Linked DNA regions of Homo sapiens: regions 1 and 2 are each reported to be linked to region 3. Evidence: microRNA targets listed by miRTarBase, many of them from high-throughput screens and not tested one by one. Region 3 holds a microRNA gene; each other region holds the end of a gene's coding sequence.

What was found. Region 3 holds the annotated microRNA hsa-miR-6854-3p (UGCGUUUCUCCUCUUGAGCAG, at 3,523-3,543, shown strand). A microRNA usually pairs through its seed, bases 2 to 8, with sites in the 3' UTR of a target mRNA and lowers its output. Matches are read on the target gene's strand: a 7mer-m8 pairs with bases 2 to 8, a 7mer-A1 pairs with bases 2 to 7 and ends in A, and an 8mer does both.
Region 1: miRTarBase lists CIT as a target of hsa-miR-6854-3p. Seed matches in the 3' UTR shown: 7mer-m8 at 3,146-3,152.
Region 2: the mRNA of MOCOS is a reported target of hsa-miR-6854-3p. Seed matches in the 3' UTR shown: 7mer-A1 at 2,817-2,823.

What each region holds. Positions count from the first base shown.
Region 1 is chr12:119,682,412-119,689,629 of GRCh38, reverse strand. CIT (citron rho-interacting serine/threonine kinase) reads left to right here. Exons shown (of 48, transcript NM_001206999.2): 48 at 1,375-3,839. The coding sequence ends at 1,398. It overlaps LOC124903033 (a long non-coding RNA gene), which reads left to right and starts at 4,144. Exons shown (of 2, transcript XR_007063485.1): 1 at 4,144-4,308. RefSeq lists an enhancer at 1,010-1,880.
Region 2 is chr18:36,267,368-36,274,585 of GRCh38, forward strand. It overlaps MOCOS (molybdenum cofactor sulfurase), which reads left to right. Exons shown (of 15, transcript NM_017947.4): 15 at 1,166-4,790. The coding sequence ends at 1,318. It also overlaps the pseudogene LOC791126. Among named protein-coding and RNA genes, the nearest start is that of FHOD3, 27 kb to the right of the region's middle.
Region 3 is chr9:98,225,474-98,232,691 of GRCh38, reverse strand. MIR6854 (microRNA 6854) reads left to right here and starts at 3,475; the gene lies at 3,475-3,543. TBC1D2 (TBC1 domain family member 2) reads left to right here. Exons shown (of 13, transcript NM_001267571.2): 5 at 3,544-3,740.

The sequences.
Region 1 (7,218 bases), not on the chromosome of region 3:
AAAAGGAAAATATGTATGCATGTAACTCAAAATATAATAGCTACCAAAAAATGTTTTCCCTTCTCCAGAGGCAAGTGGTAGCAGTTTCTAGAGATATTCTGTGCGTACCAGCAAATATATATGTGTGCTCTCCTTTTGAAACCCAAATGATAGCATCCTATATGAAATGTTGCATGCTTTTTTCAAACATAGATATAGATTCACACACATACACACATATGCTTTTCTTTTTTTTTTTTTCTTTTGAGAGACAGCGTCTTGCTCTGTTACCCCAGGCTGGAGTGCAGTGGCGTGATTATAGCTCACGGCAGCCTCAAACTCCTGGGCTCAAGTGATCCTCTCACTTCAGCCTCCTGAGTAGCTGGGAATATGGGCTGTAGCTACCATGTCTGGCTAACTTTTTCCCCCACTTTTTGTTTGTTTGTTTGTTTGTTTGTTTTGTTTTGTTTTAGAGACAGGGTCTTACTATGTTGCCCAGGCTGGAGTGCAGTGGTGTGATCATAGCTCACCACGGCCTTGAACTTCTGGGCTCAAGTGATCCTCCAGCCTCAGCCTCCTGAATAGCTGCGACTACAGGCTCAAGCCACCATCTGTCTGATTCCCACCCCCACCCCCGGCCCTTTTTATTTTTTTTAGAGACATAATGTCGCTATGTTGCCCAGGCTGGTCTTGAACTCCTGGGCTCAAGCAATCCTCCCACCTTGGCCTCCCAAAATGCTGGGATTACAGGCGTGAGTCACCACGCTCAGCCCACACATGTGTATATATAAATTGTTTTTCTGGAAGGCTACACAGAAAGTGTTCACAGTGGTTGCCTTCCAGAAGAACTTTGAACTTTTGGAAATGTTTAAATCATGTGCATGAATGATCTGTGTAATTTTAGGTTTGCGATCGAGGAGAGGGATGGGTGTGGAAGACCAGGGGCTCCCCCAGGCAGGGCATGGCTCAAGTGCTTGGTGCCTCCTTAGCAGGCTAAGCAGGTCAAGGAGCCACCTTTCTGCCATTTGGGGCTGATTTTCTGGGTGGCATTCTCCTTCTGATGCCACCTGCAGTTCACCTGCTGGTAAAGAAAGAAGGAAACACCATCCATATGGCTTCTTATCCCTCCCAATTGACCGATGAAACTGTGTATGTGCATGTGTGTGTATCACATGCTTACAGCATCGCAGGTACACACACGGCTTTGGGATTTTCCAGTGAGTTTCACTCCCTGGCTTCCCCAGGCTCTGGAGCGGGTGCTGCCCTGCCAAGCACTCACTGCTAGCTGCTGAAGGGGATAGCCCAGGGGCTGCAGATTCCCATTTGCATCATGCAAGGTGAGCACAGCAACTTCTGGCCTCGGATGGCTAACACTCCTCCTTATTTCACTCCTAGGTCTGGGACCAGTCTTCAGTATAAATCTCAGCCAGAAAAACCAACTCCTCATCTTGATCTGCAGGAAAACACCAAACACACTATGGAACTCTGCTGATGGGGACCCAAGCGCCCACGTGCTCAGCCACCCTCTGGCTCAGCGGGGCCCAGACCCACCTCGGCACGGACACCCCTGTCTCCAGGAGGGGCAGGTGGCTGAGGCTCTTCGGAGCTGTCAGCGCCCGGTGCCTGCCCTGGGCACCTCCCTGCAGTCATCTCTTTGCACTTTGTTACTCTTTCAAAGCATTCACAAACTTTTGTACCTAGCTCTAGCCTGTACCAGTTAGTTCATCAAAGGAAACCAACCGGGATGCTAACTACAACATGGTTAGAATCCTAATTAGCTACTTTAAGATCCTAGGATTGGTTGGTTTTTCTTTTTTTTTTCTCTTTGTTTCTTTCCTTTTTTTTTTTTTTTTTTTAAGACAACAGAATTCTTAATAGATTTGAATAGCGACGTATTTCCTGTTGTAGTCATTTTTAGCTCGACCACATCATCAGGTCTTTGCCACCGAGGCATAGTGTAGAACAGTCCCGGTCAGTTGGCCAACCTCCCGCAGCCAAGTAGGTTCATCCTTGTTCCTGTTCATTCTCATAGATGGCCCTGCTTTCCCCAGGGTGACATCGTAGCCAAATGTTTACTGTTTTCATTGCCTTTTATGGCCTTGACGACTTCCCCTCCCACCAGCTGAGAATGTATGGAGGTCATCGGGGCCTCAGCTCGGAGGCAGTGACTTGGGGCCAAGGGACCTCGAGACGCTTTCCTTCCCCACCCCCCAGCGTCATCTCCCCAGCCTGCTGTTCCCGCTTTCCATATAGCTTTGGCCAGGAAAGCATGCAATAGACTTGCTCGGAGCCCAGCACTCCTGGGTCTCGGGGTCGGGGAGGGGACGGGGGCACCCACTTCCTTGTCTGTGACGGCGTGTTGTTCCCCACTCTGGGATGGGGAAGAGGCCCGTCGGGAGTTCTGCATGGCAGTTCACTGCATGTGCTGCCCCCTTGGGTTGCTCTGCCAATGTATTAATACCATCCCATAGCTCCTGCCAAATCGAGACCCTCTGACGACTTGCCGACTAACTGGCCACCACAAGCTGCAGTCTGTAGCACTGAACAAACAAAAAACAAAACGCTCAAGCCTTACGACCAGAGAAGGATTTCAGCAAACCACCACCTCCCACTCAGTGTCCCCTCCAAACTTCACACTTCCCTGCCTGCAGAGGATGACTCTGTTCACACCCAATCCAGCGCGGTTCTACCCCACGAAACTGTGACTTTCCAAATGAGCCTTTCCCTAGGGCTAGACCTAAGACCAGGAAGTTTGAGAAAGCAGCCGCAGCTCAACTCTTCCAGCTCCGCCAGGGTTGGGAAGTCCTTAGGTGCAGTGCGGCTCCCACTGGGTCTGCGGACCCTCCTATTAGAGTACGAAATTCCTGGCAACTGGTACAGAACCAACCTAGAGGCTTTGCAGTTGGCAAGCTAACTCGCGGCCTTATTTCTGCCTTTAATCTCCCACAAGGCATCTGTTGCTTTGGGTCCTCCACGACTCTTAGGCCCGCCTCAACAACCCAGGCACCTCCTAGGTAGGCTCAAAGGTAGACCCGTTTCCACCGCAGCAGGTGAACATGACCGTGTTTTCAACTGTGTCCACAGTTCAGATCCCTTTCCAGATTGCAACCTGGCCTGCATCCCAGCTCCTTCCTGCTCGTGTCTTAACCTAAGTGCTTTCTTGTTTGAAACGCCTACAAACCTCCATGTGGTAGCTCCTTTGGCAAATGTCCTGCTGTGGCGTTTTATGTGTTGCTTGGAGTCTGTGGGGTCGTACTCCCTCCCCTCCCGTCCCCAGGGCAGATTTGATTGAATGTTTGCTGAAGTTTTGTCTCTTGGTCCACAGTATTTGGAAAGGTCACTGAAAATGGGTCTTTCAGTCTTGGCATTTCATTTAGGATCTCCATGAGAAATGGGCTTCTTGAGCCCTGAAAATGTATATTGTGTGTCTCATCTGTGAACTGCTTTCTGCTATATAGAACTAGCTCAAAAGACTGTACATATTTACAAGAAACTTTATATTCGTAAAAAAAAAAAGAGGAAATTGAATTGGTTTCTACTTTTTTATTGTAAAAGGTGCATTTTTCAACACTTACTTTTGGTTTCAATGGTGGTAGTTGTGGACAGCCATCTTCACTGGAGGGTGGGGAGCTCCGTGTGACCACCAAGATGCCAGCAGGATATACCGTAACACGAAATTGCTGTCAAAAGCTTATTAGCATCAATCAAGATTCTAGGTCTCCAAAAGTACAGGCTTTTTCTTCATTACCTTTTTTATTCAGAACGAGGAAGAGAACACAAGGAATGATTCAAGATCCACCTTGAGAGGAATGAACTTTGTTGTTGAACAATTAGTGAAATAAAGCAATGATCTAAACTAATGTGTGCTTTAGTGCAATGACCTCTTCTTTTTTTGAGAGACTGTGAAAGAAAAACTATCACCAGCGTGTCAGTGTAGGTGTATTATCATGGATGGGACCTTCTTTACGTTGTGGGGAGGGTTTTCCTCTGGAGTGGGATAGAGGAAGCCACGTGGTGGTTAGGGCACACTGCTATCCTGGAATTAAGCGATTGGTGACATTCTCTGCCAAGAGTTTGACTGTGGAAATTTGGTCAATACTTCCAGTGAACCATGAACTGGCTATTAAGGTCATTTTATAGGACTGCAGAGCTGGAAAGCTCTTCAAGCAGTCACACAGGACATTTGGAAAGGATTACTGAAGAATGGATTACCCAGTTCTATAATCAGCTAACCAGGAACAGGTCAGCTCAAGATATCTTTCATCTATTAAAAGGCCAACTACAATTTAATAATGTAGATTTCTTTGTAGAGAAGAATTCAAATCAAAGGTAATTAAAAATGAAAATACTTCCATTTTTAAGTAGAGGAACTTTTACAGTCTGCAAGATAAATTTTTTCTCATTCTTTAGTTTGTTAGTATAAACTTGCTCGATCCAGACAAACGGGTTTTGGCAAATGGTGATGTTTTTGTTTTCATGGTTCCTGTGGGTTGTAGTCTTTGAATTTTTATTTTCTAATGAAGTCGTCTGACCACGGTCAAAATTGGACTCGCAGAGTCGTATCTGTCTTTGTTGCTTGTGATGGGAACCACAGATGCAATTCTGTTCTTTTCGATGTTACTGTTGGGCATGAAAATCTGCCACAAGGTCGTAGTTGTAAGAATGAAAATAATTCAGAAGATGAAGTGGTGAAATGTGAACCTTTCTTTCCTTGTAGCATTAGAAAAACATCTGTTAAATATCAACCAAGCATTTCAGTGATTGTCTAGAGGATTGTGGGAGGTCACAGAAAACTTCCAAAGCTAAGTCAACATAGTTTGGTTTCAAAAGGAAGTGCCAAGGAAGAGTGTTTGAACCCTAAGGAATAGCCCGAAAGAAACAACCAACCAATTCCACAGCCACACCGTAAAATGAGGCCTAACTCTTCATGCTGGCCACTCCTGTTTCATAAGCACAAAATTAGATGTCATGTTTTCTGCGCTTACAACTTAATTGTCACCGGACTAAAGAGGTTGATTGCATAGCAAATTCCATAACCATGGAACTTTAGGATTTGGAGGGTTAGGCCAAAAGAGAATTTGCTTAATAGGACTGTCTTCAGAATTGGACCTCTTGAATGTGATTTGCTATAGAAAGCATTCGTGGGGGCCAGCTCAGATTCCATTCTCAGAATACAGTGGTTACACTGGCTTGTTCCACTGGTTCTAAGCCATGGGGAGATTTTGCTTCCCTCCTCCCAGAGGACATTTGACAATGTCTGGAGACATTTTTGGTTGTCACAACTCGGGAGTACTACTGGTATCCAATGGGTGGAGGTCAGAGATGCTGCTCAACATCCTACAAGGCAAAGGACAGCCCCCCACTGTAAAGCATTATCTGGCCCAAAGCCTCAATAGTGCCAAGGTTGAGAAACCGTGGTCTGTTCTAGTTTTAGTCCCATGTCTTCCTTGGCAATTTAAATACTGCTAATGATGTCTAAAGCATGTAGACCGTGGCTCTAGGCCTACAGTGTTAAATGAGAAAAATAGTTTCTTATTTGCCCACTCAAATGCTGAAGCTGTTTCCTGAAGCTGGGGAGGGTGGGGGTAGTGGAAATAGAGTCCAGTGTTGATCACTTTGTTTTCCCTTGAGTCTGTTAATGATGAACGGAACTCTATTTGCCCTAGAGAGATTGTTAGAGGTAGATGAAAGAACCTTGAAAATGACTTTATTACTCTGCATAAGTCAGGCTGTCTTTCAGAGAGCCACAAAAAAGGAAACAAAAAATCGACCAAGGGTATACACATCTTGGCCTGTTCTCACTGGCCACTGAGTATTTCAGATGGGATGGGTGAATTCTTTTAGGGGGAGGTAGCAGTAAGAGCTGGCATCCTCATCTGGGGAAAGGCTCTTTAGTTGTATGAAAGACAAGACGACAATGTAGTTGTGGGAGCCCACCCTGAGGGCAGAGCCTGGTGGCTCGTTCTAGAGCCAGTGGCTGGGGTCCCAGAGACGGGGCTCCGGCTGCTGCTCCAGCTTTTGGGATCTTCTCCAAATGTCTGACTCACTATAGTGACGATGACTCTTAGGAGGATCCTGTGGATGTTTTTACAATTAATAGGGATGACTGGGGTTTTAGAAGAAATGTATACGTATCTACAACTTCCATGTTTTCTCCTGAAGACAATTATAGTTGGCATACCAGGGCAGAAGGCTCTAGTTTGTTTCTCCACTAATTTGCTGGCCAAGATGAGTGCTGAAGCTTTTATTCCTCAGAAACTTTATGATTTGATGAGTGGTCCATGTCTTGGGTCTTCATCAATTCATTCAAACCATTTGTAAACATTGGTGGATGTCTTAGCCCATTTAGTGCTGCTTTAACAAAATACCTGAGAATGGGTAATTTATAAAGAACAAAAATTCATTCTCTCACAGTTCTGGAGGCTGGGAAGTCCAAGATTAAGGCATGGGCAGGTTTGCTTGTCTAGTGAGGGCTACTCTCTGCTTCCCAGATGGCGCCTTGTGCTTGGGTCCTCTGCAGGGGAGAAAAGCTGTGTGTCCTCACATGGCAGAAGGTGCCAGGGCACATGAGCTGAATGCTGCCTGAAGCCTCTTTGATAAGAACCTCAATTTCATTCATGAGAGGAGGGGCTCTCATGACCTAATCTCTTCTTAAAGGCCCTACCTCTTAATACTATCACATTGGGGACATTTGAATTTTGAAGGTGACACAATAGCAGAGGAGGATCAGATATGGGAAGTAAATGCTTGAAAGTGAAACTGTGCTCATACAAAAGGAACTGAATTAAAATGAAATTTTGTTCTTTCCTAGACTGGCTCGTTCAGTCTCTGACCTCAGCCACAGATCGTATCATGATGTTCCAGGTTTTTTCTCTCAGTCTTTTAGGAGCCTTGGAGATTTCCTAATTGAGCTAGCTGAGGTGCAGGCACAATTTTCTTGTCTGGCCTTTTGACTTCCTGTTTGTGGCCTTAGCCCTGCAATACTGATTTACATTTTAGTAATTTTTTAGGCTTTAATTTGGCTCTATAAATTCATCTGTATATCAGCTTCTAGAGGGAAAAATGTATCTTCATTGAAAAGCAATTTGAGTTAAGCTTTAACTAAGTCCTCACCCATAAAGGAAATGCTAATGAAGAAAGGATTACTTGGTCATAGGACACGATTTGACATATGGCTTTGCCCCTGTGATTTGGGCAAAACAAGGTCTCCTTTTCCACCTTTGTAAAATCACCATTAAC
Region 2 (7,218 bases), not on the chromosome of region 3:
ACTTTCTGTTAGGACTTTTTGTTTTCAAAGAATTCCAGGAAGCCAAGAAAAGCAGTCAGGCTACATAGAACAATTCTTGAAAATTAACAGAAATAATGCAAACACTGTATCTACTTCCAATAATAAGCTGGCAAGTTAATTCATGGTAAAATGTGCTACATTGTTTCCTGTGTTTCTTCAAAGCCAGGGTTTTGTTTCACAGTATAGACATTTGATTTATGTAAGTTTTCTTACCAATATGGGATAGAAATGGCCTGCAGAGTAGTGCATTTGACTGTTACAGCAGCATGTCTGTCAATGCAGGCTGTGTTGTCTGGGGTGTGGGGACCTTGAGCCTGCACCATGCAGGTTGCCAGGAGAAGAAAGAAGAAGGCACAAATACAATACTAAGGTCCATGAAAATAGTGTTTCTCAGCATCACTGCAATTTTCATGTGCATGATGAACCTTTTATTTTTAAATTTTGGAATAATTTTAGATTTACGGAACAGTTGCAGTGAGAGTGCAGAGGCTGCACTTTTCACCCACATTTGTACAAATCATGAGGAATTGGCCCAATCCCCTAGCCTGGGGCCTGGAACATGAGGGTGTCCAACAGATGTTATCACAAGAACTAACAGATCGGAGAGCATGTCAAGTCCTCCAAAGGGTCCTGAGTGGTTCACTTGCATTGATGGTTAACATTGAGCAGACTTACCTACTCTTCATTTTGGACCTTCCATCCTTATTCAGGAGAATTTGACAAAATTAACTTGCATCATTCTTTCTCAAGGAAAATGCAGAGTTCTGCCACTGTCTTCCCCAAAAGGCTTTTACATCAGGCAGCAAACAGGAAATGGGCCTGATGGTGGTCACAAGCTGAGAGTAGGAAGAAAGTCCTTCTGCAGGAAGTTCAGGGCATGTGGGACAGAGATGTGCCCAGCAAGAAAGAGGTGTGGGGTGACCACAGGGAAAGGATGCCTTAGAATGAGAATCTTTGGGGTCTAAAGTTAGGATTCTCTTAATGTTCCAGTGCATTCTACTGTGTAACAGATAGGAGATATCAAGTCTCAGTATATGTCTTTAAAAATCTGACTTGATTTTAGTTAAACATTAATATTTACAAAGTTATTTTAATTGCTAAAATAATCTAGCCTTTTTTGTTGTTGTTGCTGTTTTGTTCACAGGTGAACTTTGGCATGTACCTGATGCATGCATCATTGGATTTATCCTCCCCATGTTTCCTGTCTGTAGGATCTCAGGTGCTCCCTGTGTTGAAAGAGAATGTGGAAGGTCATGATTTACCTGCATCTGAGAAACACCAGGATGTTACCTCCTAAAAAAAATTTTTAGCATAAAGTTTCTCTTTTACAGTGATCTCTATTATTGTTAAGATCTGCAACTTGGTTCAGTAGAACTTGATGTTTTGAATAAGGAGAGCTCTTTTTCTTTAGAGGCAGGGAATGCTCTCACCTGCTTCCTTCTGCCTTTGACTTCTCACCCTGCAAATTTGCACTGGCTGTGCTCAGGAGAGCACTTCTGAGGCCTCAGGAACGAATGCTGCACCCACATCCAGTGAGGCTCCTGTAGGTATTTGAAGTATAATCACTTGTAATCAGATGAAATTTTTAATGAAGTTCACTGGGAAGATTGAACTTACTGCGGGTCCCTATTTTGCCATTTTCTCACATTGTTACTTTGTTTTTAGAGAGCATCTTTGGATCTCTCCAACCCGTTTGTAGTGAGGAAGGGAGTCTATGCCCAGTGATCCTGGGTATGAGAAGGTGCTCCTCTCCTCCCATGTACATGATGGTGTGGGTTTATGCTCAGGGGCCCAGAGGGTAACTTGTGACCACATTCCTTGAGGGGAGTTTCTACCAGAATATTTATATTCTGAGCAAAGGCACAGGCCAGCAATTCCTTTCCTGTTGCTTCCCATCCCTGGCCTCCGTCCTCATCCCCCACTGAGTTGATGCACTGAGGATGGCTCACGAGCCTGAAGTTACACTCAGTGATGGCTGTGCTTATGCAGGTTGTCATCCTCCCCTCCACAAGCCCACAGGATGGTGTTGGTCCATCACCCGAGAGCCTCCAAATCCTATCGAGGGAGGAACTTTGGCATTCAGGAATCCTGTCTGTATCATCTTTGACCACTGCTCCTGCAGCCTCCAGATGAAAATGTCCAGTGAGGAAATCTCATTCTCTAATGAAGTTACCCATCCCGCTGAGTTTCTAAGAAGTTTCTCCCTGTGCGGAGCTTGTGTGTGCCTTATCTGCTTCTGCATGACTTCCAGCCTGGGGTCTTACCCTGTCCTCTGGAGCAATGCAGAGTGAGTACATCCACTCCACATTCATTCTGCTGGCGTCCTTCTGAAGCCTGCTGTCCATGTGTGAACCCAGTCCCTTCATCATCTTCCCCCTGGATGGTTGTATTTTTCCAGTCACTTCTCCCCCAAATGTCTGCCTGCTGCAGCCCACTGCATCTTTTGAAAGCCTGTGCCACCCCATCTCTCCTGCTGCTCAGTTGGAGAGCAGGCTCCAGGCTCAGGCTTCCCTAATGTATCTGTTCAGAGCCTGTGGGATTCAGGGTCAGTTTGTTTCATTATCACATTTGTAGGACTTTGTGTTGTTCCCAGCACTAGGTGAGATTTGAAAGATGAGGTGTGCTCTGTTCTCAAGGATTGTTGAGATGGAGCCTAATGATTGCACACTCACGTGCTGTGAAGAGTTAAGGGTAAAAAGTACAACTCTGACTCTGGTTCCTGAGATCACCGAAAGAAGAGGCAAATGAAGTTAGGTGGGGTGGGGTGGGGTTTATTGTTTTGAACTGTTTATTAAAAACGCAACCTCTTCAAAGACTCAGCACTGCCACATCATATGAGTGGACTTGTCCTCATCAGCTAACTGATAGGAGAACAATGCCCTAAAGTAATGGATTTATCCACCTACTCAGGCCAGTTTCATGCAGGAGGGAACTTTCCAGATGGCACATTGCCCCATTTCCAAGACCTTCCGCTGACAAATGCATCATATTAATTATGATGGAAAACAAGTAAGAAGGCATGCTCTACAAAAATTAGGTCACTTGCCCAGGTGCGGTGGCTCACACCTGTAATTCCAGCACTTTGGGAGGCTGACGTGGGCAGATCATGAGGTCAGGAGATCGAGACCATCCTGGCTAACACGGTGAAACCCCGTCTCTACTAAAATACAAAAAATTAGCTGGGCATGGTGGCATGCACCTGTAGTCCCAGCTACTTGGGAGGCTGAGGCAGGGGAATCGCTTGAACCCGGGAGGCGGAGGTTGCAGTGAGCCGAGATCATGCCACTGCACACCGGCCTGGTGACAGAGCAAGACTCCATCTCAAAAAAAAAAAAAAAAAAATTAGGTCACTTTTGTCATCAAGAATATGTTTTTCTTATCCACGTCTATGTCACCTTTTGCAGTAGATACTTTCATGACTGATTTCAGGCTTTTTGTTTTTTTGAGACAGGGTCTCACTCTGTCACCCAGGCTGGAGTGCAGTGGCATGATCACAGATCATTGCAGCCTTGACCTCTTGGGCTCAAGCGATTCCCCTGCCTCAGCCTCCCAAGTAGCTGGGACTACAGGCACACATCACCACATCCAGCTAATTTTTTTTTTCTTTTTTTTCTTTTTGGTAGAGATGGCATCTCACTTTGTTGCCCAGGCTAGTTTTGAATTCCTGGGCTCAAGCCATCCTCCCGCCACAGCCTCCCAAAGTTCTGGGATTACAAGTGTGAGCCACTGTGCCCAGCTTTTGATTTCAGACATTTTAATGCAGATCCTCTCCTTTACAGCACTATTATTTGGTTATCTACTTATAATTACTGATTTAACATTGATCTGTTTTCACTAGACTGTAAGCTCCATGAGGACAAGTCCTGTGCCAGTATATCTCTAGTGTCAGCAGACAATACTCAAAATTTGTTGACAGACTATTTAAAGCTGCCCCTATTTTTATCATTAATTGATTGAATATTAATTAAATATATTTTATTAATTTAAAATGAATTTTAAATGCATTTTTTCTTTAGTGTCTACCTTCAATATTTCTTGTATGAAGTTTCAGCTAAAAATGTACTTTGTGTATCTGTAGAGTGGCTTCATATTCAGAGTTTATGGACATTTATGATTTTATGTCCCCTCCTTGGTTCTTATCTCCTGGAGTTCAGCCTTATGTGCTTCTCAAAGTGTATAACAAAATCAAAGACAATGTCATGTCCCTTGAATTTAATTCTAACACCAAACCTTGGTGTTAGAGTCACAAAAAGTCCTTTTTTAAAAAAACTTGGTGAGAACAGACAATAACTTGTCTTTCTGGGCATTCGCGTCATGGTCCTTTTAGCCAGAAGAGAGGTTTTCTTTTGCATAGTTTGGTGAGCATCAAGAATCCTTTAAGGAGGGTGGCGGTGCTGACTTCTCCCCATTGAGAGTCAGCCTCATCCCCTCCTCAGCCTTGTGGATGGAGAAGAACAGGCAGTGATATACATTTTCTGCTGTTGAAAGATGTCCGCTTATCCTTCTCTTTCAGTGAAAAGTTGCTTTTTTATTCAATATGTACTGAACAGGTTCTAGAGTTTCAGAAACAAAAGAAACAGAACCAACATTTATAGATCTCACTATAGAGGCATCACTAATTGGGGAAAGACAGACTAGGTAATAGTCAGATGTGATATAGTATGTTTAAGCTATAGGATGGCAGGTGCATGAGTGTTGGTTGTATTATTCTTTATTTTTTTGTATGACTTATGATATTCATGATAATTAAAACGTTTTGGAACAATTCATCTCAATTTTCTTTGCTTTGTTTAAAAAGCAAACATTGGCCAGGTGTGGTGGCTCATGCCTGTAATCCCAGCACTTTGGGAGGCCAAGGTGGGTGGATCACTTGAGGTCAGGAGTTCGAGACCAGCCTTGCCAACATGGCGAAACCCCATCTCTACTAAAAATATAAAAATTAGCCAGGCATGGTCGTGTGCACTAGTAATCCCAGCTACTCGGGAGGCTGAGGCAGGAGAATTGCTTGATCCCTGGGAGGCGGAGGTTGAAGTCAGCGGAAATCCTGCCACTGCACAGCGGCCTGGGTGACAGAGTGAGACTCCGTCTCAAAAAAATAAAAATTTTTAAAAAATGAAATAAAAATTAAAAGCAAACATTGAGCAAGAAAAGGTGCCAGCCTGCTGAGGTACCATCTCTGTCATTGTAACTACGCCAAAGGCAGATGGATGAGAGAAGGGACCTGCCCTTAGGCTGAAAGATTTGTTATGTTGGTAGCTGGTGGTGTTGTCTGGAACTTATGAATTGTATTTTCCTTGTAGCTTTTTCAGAAAGCAAGCTATTTTTTTCTCTTATTACAGCTACTAAATTTTGAGTTATTCTCACCTTTATTCATTTTTTAAAATGTGGGCCTGCAAAAGTATATCTAGTACTATAACAATATCTTTTTTCCTCTAAATTTTTATTTTTTAATTTTTGTGGGTACATAGTAGGTTTATATATTTATTGGGAGTATAACAACCCCTTAATAGGGAGAAACAACATTTGAGGGGAGGGAAAATATGTATACAATAAACAGAGTGGGGTCACATGATAACATTCTAGGCATTTTGTCAGAGGTGGACCTAAAATTTGAATCTGAGCATGCTGGTATCTTCAAAAGGGGGAAACATGGGAGGCCGAGGTGGGCGGATCACGAGGTCAGGAGATCGAGATCATCCTGGCTAACACGGTGAAACCCCGTCTCTACTAAAAAATACAAAAAATTAGCCGGGCATGGTGGCGGGGGCCTGTAGTCCCAGCTACTCGGGAGGCTGAGGCAGGAGAATGGCGTGAACCTGGGAGGCGGAGCTTGCAGTGAGCGGAGATCGCGCCACTGCACTCCGGCCTGGGCGACAGAGTGAGACTCCATCTCAAAAACAAAAACAAAAACAAAAACAAAACAAAACAAAAAAAAAAAAAACGGGGGAGGAGGGGCGGGGCGGTAAACATACAGTCAACAAATTCACAATTTCCAGAAGATAAAAACAAACATGTTTGTTCAGGGCAAATGGTGCTCAGGCTTGAGAGAAATTTGTCTTCATAAAGACAATACTATGAAACTTCCATTCCTGGGGCGGCCTTAGCACCAGCCTGGTGGGACCGGACCAGCCAGCCAGCCTCCCCAGGCAGCTCGCTGAGAATGGGAGGGCCAGCCCAGTGGCGCCATGATCCTCCTACCCTGTAACTCCCACAGTAACTAGCTGCTCTACACCGGCTTCAGCCAAGACCACGGATGCCTTGCTTGTGGGATGGAAAACGGATTCTGAGTCTATAACACCAATCCATTAAAATAAAAAGAGAAACAAATTTCTAGGAGGAAGAGTTGGTCATAATGAAATGTTATTTTGCTGCAACTATTTAGCTTTAGTTGTTGGTGGAAAAAAGCCAAAATACCTTCCCAACAAAGTGATGATCTGAGATGACTGAAAAAGAAGACTGTTAATGAAATAGAATTTGCTACAGAAGTCAAGGCAGTCAAATTGCAGCGAGATAGAATTGTGGTTGTTTTGGACTCCATGATTAAGGTGTTTGCACTCACACAGAACCCCCATCAGTTGTACATCTTTGAAACCTCCTAAAACCCTAAAGGCCTCTGTCCTCTGTCCCAATAGCAACAACTCTCTTCTGGCCTTGCCAGGCATGCACACGAGCCATGTTCAGCTCGTGGACTGGGCCAGCACAGAGAAGCCACCTGTGGACATTCCCGCTCCTGAGGGCATCCTGAGCTGCATGATACTCAACCTGCAGGGAACAAGAATTGCAACCACACTCGCAAAAGGGACCCTTATAAGAATATTTGATACCTCATCAGGACATTTAATCCAGGAACTATGAAGAGGATCTCAAGCAGCTAATGTTTTCTGCATTAACTTCAATCAAGATGAGTCCTTCATCTGCATATCCAGTGACCACAGCACAGTGCACATTTTTGCAGCTGAAGACCCAGGGAGGAAAAAACAGTCCAATTTGGTGTCAGCTAGTTTCCTTCCAAAATCCTTTAGTTGCAAAGGGGTTTCTCCAAGTTTCAGGTTCCCTTGGGCTCTCCATGCATTTGTGCCCTTGGAACAGAGCCAAATGTGGTCACTGCGATTTGTGCAGATGTCGGCTACTACAAATTCCTATTCAACCCCAGAAGGGAATGCATCCCAGACATCTATGCGCAGTTTCTAGAAATGA
Region 3 (7,218 bases):
CTTGGGACATGTCTGCACTATCTTTGCAACTTCCTGTGAGTCTATAATTTTTTCAGAGTAAAAAATTAAGAAGAGGCTGGGCATGGTGGCTCACGCTTGTAATCCCAGCACTTTGGGAGGCCAAGGCTGGAGGATTGCTTGAGCCCAGGAGTTCAAGACAAGCCTGGGCAACACAGGGAGACCCTGTCTTTACAAAAAAATAAAAAAATTAGCTGATCATGGTGCAAGCCTGTAGTCCCAGCTACTTGGGATGCTCAGCTGGGAGGATCACTTGAGCCAGGGAGGTCGAGGCTGCAGTGAGCCGTGATCATGCATGGGTGACAGAGTGAGACACTGTCAAAAAAAAAAACAGAAAAAGAGAAAGAAGAAAAGAAAAAGCACCCTTTGGAGCAGTCAGTGCCTGGCAGAGCCCTAGAGAGCACAACAAGCAGTCCAAGAGAAGGCCAGTGCTATATCGGATGAGTCACCATCATCATAACACTAGCAGTTACTTCATGCCAGTGCGGCAGTAAGCATTTTTTTTGGCAACAACTTTATTAAGATATATTCATGTACTATACAATTCACCCATTTAAAATGTGTAATTCAGTGGCTTTCTGTATATCCTCAGAATTATGCAGCCGTCACTATAATCAATTTTAGAACATTTTTATTACCCCAAAAAGAAACCTGCACCCTTAGTCATCAACCTTAATCCCCACTGCCCCATAACCCTAGGTGGCCACTCATCTTTCTTTCTCTATGGCTGTGCCTGTTCTCGACATCTGCTGTGAGTGGAATATACCAAGGAATATACCATGCTGTGACTGGCTTCTTTGACTTAGTAGAATCTTTTCAAGTTTCATCTGTGTGTACCAAGCACTTTACCTACCTTGACCTATTTAATTCTTACAGCAACTGGAACTGTATATATTGTATATATTGTTGTTATCCTCATTAGATTAATAAGGAAACTGAGGCATGGAAGGGTGGAGTGACTTGCTCACGGCCACAGAGTGAGTGACAGAACAAAATCTAATATATAAAGCAGATAAATCCACCATAAGTTGAAAATATCATAAGTTGAAAATGCATTTAATATACTTAACCTATTGAACAGTATAGTTTTGCCCAGTCTATCTTAACCATGCTTGGAACACATACATTTGGGCAAAATCATCTAACACAAAACCTATTTTCTAATAAAGTGTTGAATATCTCAACACTGTGTTAAACTGTGTTAAACGGTGTTTACACTGTGTTAAACAGTGGTTGTAATCAGATTTTTAAATGGAGGAAAAGATTATTTTTATGTCAATAAATCTTTTCTAATATGTACAAATGAGTTTCTTGAACACTAATAAAAAACACCTAAATTCTTTTTGAGACTCTAAATGAGCTACAAATTAAAAAAAAAAAAAAAAAAAAAAAAAGCAGAGTTGAGGCTGGAGTTGGAGTCTGGACTCCTCCTCTGCTCCTCTTACTCCACCTTCCTCTCCCAGTCAGCCCTTGAGGCACTCCTATGAAATCCAGGGCACTGATTGAACACCACTGTCTTAGGCCTTATTTTCTCTAATTATAAACTGGGCACTGTGAGGCCTGCCCTGCCTGTCCTCAGAGTTGGTGCACAGTCATGTATCAGAGGGCAGCAGTGCTACAAGGAGCTTCCCTGCTCCCCTATACCCCATTACAGGAAGGAGAAAGAGGTAGTACATATTTCTGAGCTCTGCAGGCTGCCTTGTACCCAGTGTAACCTGATTTCTCTTCGATCTGGAACAAGACTGTTCTGGTTTTGCACTCAGCAAGGCACTGTTGTTTTGTTCGTTTGTTTTGAGTCAGAGTCTCGCTCTGTTGCCCAGGCTAAAGCGCACTGGCATGATCTCGGCTCACTACAACCTCTGCCTCCCGGGTTCAAGTGATTTCTGGCTAATTTTTGTATTTTTAGTAGAAACGGGGTTTCACCATGTTGGCCGGGTGGTCTCGAACTCCTGACTTCAAGTGATCTACCCGCCTCAGCCTCCCAAAGTCCTAGGATTACAGGCGTGAGCCACCACGCCCGGCCGAGCAAGGTACTGTTTTTGCACTCAGTGTCTGGTTCCTGTCACCTACTGGAGTAACTCTTTATTTGTTCAAGACTGTTTGGCCAGCCCTTGGCCTGGTCTCATGCTAAGTCATTTGGCCTATCCCCAAAGCCCTGCGTGTCCCCTATCCTGGGATGCCATACCACATTCTTATTTTCAACACCTTTAACACTTTAGTCCCAAGAAATAGGTAATAGTTTACTAAAATGCATACTCCTGCAAATGAGTAATTTGGTTAGGAGATTTAGATAAGATCAATTTACGATCCTACAAAATATCTGAGAGTAGGCAGTAAATGTGGCTGTAAGCTCAGCAGCCAAGGCAAAGAGGGAAATGCAAGCAGCTAGATTATTTCCAGTGTCCATAAGACTAAAAACATATTTTCTTATAAGAAGCAAAGCTTTTCTTGGAAGTTCCTAGGGCTGAAGGGAATTTCTTCTGCTGGGGACTCATAATAGGCATGATGTATATATCCCATGTGAACAAGCTTCTCAAGGGCCCTTGGCTACATAGTCAGGCCCTTAAATGTCCCTTGATGCAGGCTGATGGCAGAGACCAGAAGCACAGCTGGGTCAGGGCAGGACAAGGCAACACAAGGGAATGATTCTCTGATGTTTGGTTTGATTTAAGAATAAAATTTTGATGACTTAAAAACAGTGGGTGGCAAACATTTTTTGTAAAGAGCAAGATAGTAACGATTCGAGGCTTTGTGGGCCATAGGGTTTCTGTTTTAAGCACTCAGTTCTGCCTTTGAGGAGTAAAAGCAGCAATAGACAGCACATAAACAAATGGGCATGGCCGTGTTCTAATAAAGCTTTATTTGTAAAAGCAGGCTGTGGGCTGGATTTGGCCTGTGAACCATAGGTTGTAACCCAGGAGATAAAAGGACTATGCATCCTTGAGACAATCAACTGTGGGGGAAATATATCTCTTAACTTAGCTTGGAATAAGAAGAATCAAGTTAAATGCTTGAGCTGCTCTCTGGAGCAAGAATGCAGAGTACAGACATTCATTTTGTGTTCCTATCATCAGACAGATCTGTGTGCTTTGAAAATCTCCTAGTACATAGAGGTGGGATCCTGAAATAAGGAACAGAACATCCTGCCAGGGCTTGTGCCTGAGGAGAAAGCCACTTGGCAAACACCAGCAGGGTGGCATGAGATAGACCAATGCAGGCTGGGTGGGATCTGAAGGAAGGAGACAGGCACAGTTTAGCAGATGGGCCAGCACAGTGCAATAACGTTTATGTAGGCCAGTGGTTCTCACAGTCTAACCCCTGGACAAGCTGTGTCAGCATCACCTAGGAACTTTTTAGAAGTGCATATTCTCAAGCCCTGCCCCAGACCTATTAAATCCAGAGCTCCGAAATTAGGGCCCAACCATCCGCATTTTAACAAGCCCTCCAGGTGCTTCTAAAGCAAGCTCAGGTTTGAGAACTGCTGATGTCATCAGTCATAACTTCTGCGTTTCTCCTCTTGAGCAGGGAGAGAGCCAGAGGATTCTCCAAAGCCTGCACCCAAGCCTTCTCTGACCATCAGTTTCGCTCAGAAAGCCAAGCGCCAGAACAACACCTTCCCATTCTTTTCTGAAGGAATCACACGGAACCGAACTGCCCAGGAGAAAGTGGCAGCCTTGGAGCAACAGGTTCTGATGCTCACCAAGGAGTTAAAGTCTCAGAAGGTGAGGTCTGGTCCCAGGGAGGCCCCAGGTTCCAGTGGACCCCTCCAGTTCCTGGAGCCTTTCGGATAAGCTAGATGGGACGCATTAGCCGTGCTGGGCACCAGCTACTCTCTGGTCTTTAAAGGCCAAACTGCAGAATGTTGAAATATGCTGTTGATTACTCAAGAACCTGATGTCACTCAAAGTAAGTCACAAAAGGGCACCAAGGGCAGGTATCTCTGGAGATCTACTCTAATAACTGTCTCTTGGACCCCTCCTGGAGGGCCATGCATGGTCTCACCCCCTACCCAGAAAATGACATTATTTAGAGGCAGGTGATCTGGATGCAGGGTCATGGGAGGGGCTGTCGATAGAACTGGGGGGAACTTTGACCTGGCAGCCGATATCTGGGCACAGATATCTGAATGACCGTCACAAGACTGTCACAGGAGAAAGCAAACAAGCAGCATGTGTGTGGCCCAGGGCTAAGCCAGGACCAACACAGAAACAGTGAAAGGAATATTTGGGCTTAATATGGTAAGAAGTTAATTACGAGAGTTACAAGAGCTATATAATAATTGTAGAAAACAGATCTCATACACACAGACATTAAAACTACTCCAAAATCCTACATCCCAGAGAGTAAATGGTATTAAAAGCCAGGGGCTACCTTATGAAGTAGTGAGGGTCCCAGGGCAAAGATGTGAGAGGGCTGCAGCTCCGGGCGGGAGCCCCTCTTTAGAGTGATAAAAGCGACTAAGTTAGGCAGTTGTTACATAAATCCCAACGGTGGGGCCTGGTAGGACCTGTGGTGGCAGTGGCGGGCTCCAGTGAGGGCCCAGACTCCTTTTCCTCTAGAGGAAGGCCTAAGCTTTTGTGTTTGAACTTTGGCTGCCCGGAGGCCCTTTCTGCTTTGTTTTCCAGCCCTGACTCCAGAGGACTTAGGCTGGGGAGGTGGGGCTTATGCCCTATTACCTTCTGAATATTTCTTATAACTTGTACATTTCTTCTTTTCTTTTCTGCCCTATTTTGGTGGGAAGAAATCTAGAAAAAATGCTCTCCCTATACCTAGTTTGGCCCCTCGTCTGCCTTTTCTGCCCCTAAGCAGTGACCACTGTCAGCAGATCTCAGGGGAACCGGCAGAGGCTTCATTCCTGGCATGTCAGAAGTTACTTTTTTTTTTTTTTTTTTGAGACAGAGTCTCATTCTGTCACCCAGGCTGGAGTGCAGTGGTGCAGTCTTGGCTCACTGCAACCTCTGCCTCCCGGGTTCAAGCGATTCTCCTGCCTCAGCCTCCCAAGTAGCTGGGATTACAAGCACCTGCCACCATGCCCAGCTAATTTTTTTTTGTTTTTTGGTTTTTGTTTTTAGTATTTTTATTAGAGACTAGGTTTCACCATGTTGGCAAGGCTGGTTTCGAACTCCTGACCTCAAGTGATCTGCCCACCTCAGCCTCCCAAAGTGCTGGGATTACAGGCGTGAGCCACCGTGCCTGGCCAGGAGTTACATTTAGTGAAGCAACTGGTGATTAGACATTAGAGTTCTCAAAGGAGGGGGCTCATTTATTCATACGTTCTTAACTCATGTGTTTATTCACCAAATTTTTATTAAGGGCCTGTTATGTGCATGCAGTGTTCCAGGTGCTGGGAAAGAACAATGAGCAAAAGACACAGGCTCTGCCCTTACAGCTTGCATTTCATGGCAGAGACAGACATTAAACAAAGCAACACCCAAATGTGTAGTTATAACACGTGAGGTCCCCTCTGCTGCTGCTTAGCAGCCCAGCTGTCTTTTCCTCCTGTCATCATGGTGCTCCAGTTCTGAGGCTGCTGGACGCTCCTGAGAGCTGAGAGGGCATGAAACAGAGCCATAGCAGCTACTTGATCCCTGGACTAGTAGAGCTTAAATCCGAAACCCAAACCTGGAAAGAAAAAGAAATCCTGAATATACGGGCAGCCTCTCTTGACACAGCCTTTCTTTCTAAGACATTACAAATTGTCAGATGAAGTAGAAAGGCCCCAGGAAACCTAGATTTCATGAAAGTTTGCCCCTGATTGCTCTGCATCTCTGGAGGACTCATCATTCTTCAATAAATAAAGGCAAGATTCTTGGAGATTAATAAGGGTTGACCAGGCTATTGACAACTCCCATATATTCAGAGGGAAATTGTCAGGAGGAAGTTGTTGATGCATTGAAGAATCTGGATTTTTTTTCTACCAGGTAACCTTCCACCAAACCTCGACTTTGTGTCCTGGGACAGAGGGTCAAAAGGAGAATGAGTTGTGATTTATTTAGTTTATCCAATTATTGTGCAATAGGAGTGGATTTGTTTACTCTCCAACCCATTCCACAAATGAACTTCAGTCTTCAGGGTGATTCAAAGAACCAGCCTTTAAATAAGACAGCACAGGCTCAAATTCTGGCCCTAAGCAAGTTTCTTAACCTATCTAAGCCTCAGTTTCCTCTTCTGTAAATGGAGTTGCAGCCGTGTTTACTGGAGAGACCTGTGCCCAGATTCATAAAGCCCAGTACCTGGCACCCAGCAGCTGCCCAACAGATGCAGGCTCTGGTTGTTCTGGCGATTACTGCAGCCCTCCTTACCCTCCATGTCAATCTCTTCCTGCCCTACAAGCAGTGAGGTGCCCTGCTGAGGGGCTCAGAGACGAGGCGGGAAGTGAGAGCCCATCAGTGCCTTCAGGAAATGTGCCGTGGGGCCATAGCAGTGATCAGGGAGCTTAGGTCTTCATTCCACATTAGGAAGGGAGGAATGGCAGCCCCGTAACTCTAGGGTTTCACCTGTAGCCCAGATACTGAAACCAAAGAGGTGAGACAGAAAAAGCCAGCACAACTTCTGGGTGCCCAGTGGTGCCCCCAGGCACTCAGAATGCCGCTAGGAGAGCCGCTGTCCATCTGAGACCCTCATTAGAGTCCCATTCATCAGCTGGGAAGATGGGCACCTGGAATCCCAGGAGCTACCCCTGCGAGGTACCTTCCTGTGTTTCTTTAGTGGGAAGGCACCTCCTGTCTACCTCAAACTTCAGGAGGACATGGGAATTTGGGGTCTTATCCTAGCTGATCTGGCCATTGCCAGTGGCTTTCGTGACTCTTTAGGAATTTCTATCTCAAACACTGCGAGATGCTCTTGAGAGCACATTGCAGACAAATCCCTGCCCTTGGGCACCTCACCATCTAGTGGGGAAGAGAAGATGTGAGCATGGGAACTGCTGGTATGAAGCGCGGCCCCAGGACTGTGCTGAGCCTTCCCATGTGTTATCTCTGTCCTTACAATAGTTTTCATCCCCTTACTCTGAAAGGGAAACTGAGGTTCTCAGAGTGTCTGCATGCTCAGGGTCTCCCAGGGGCTAAGCCAGCATTTGAGGAGCTCAGAGGAGTTGGGTGACTTGCCCATGCGCAGGCAGCTGGAAAAGCCAGGATTGGGGCCCTAACCTCCTTCTCCAAGTCTAGAGGCTGGGCTGCCTCCTCTCTTCCATAGTCTCAT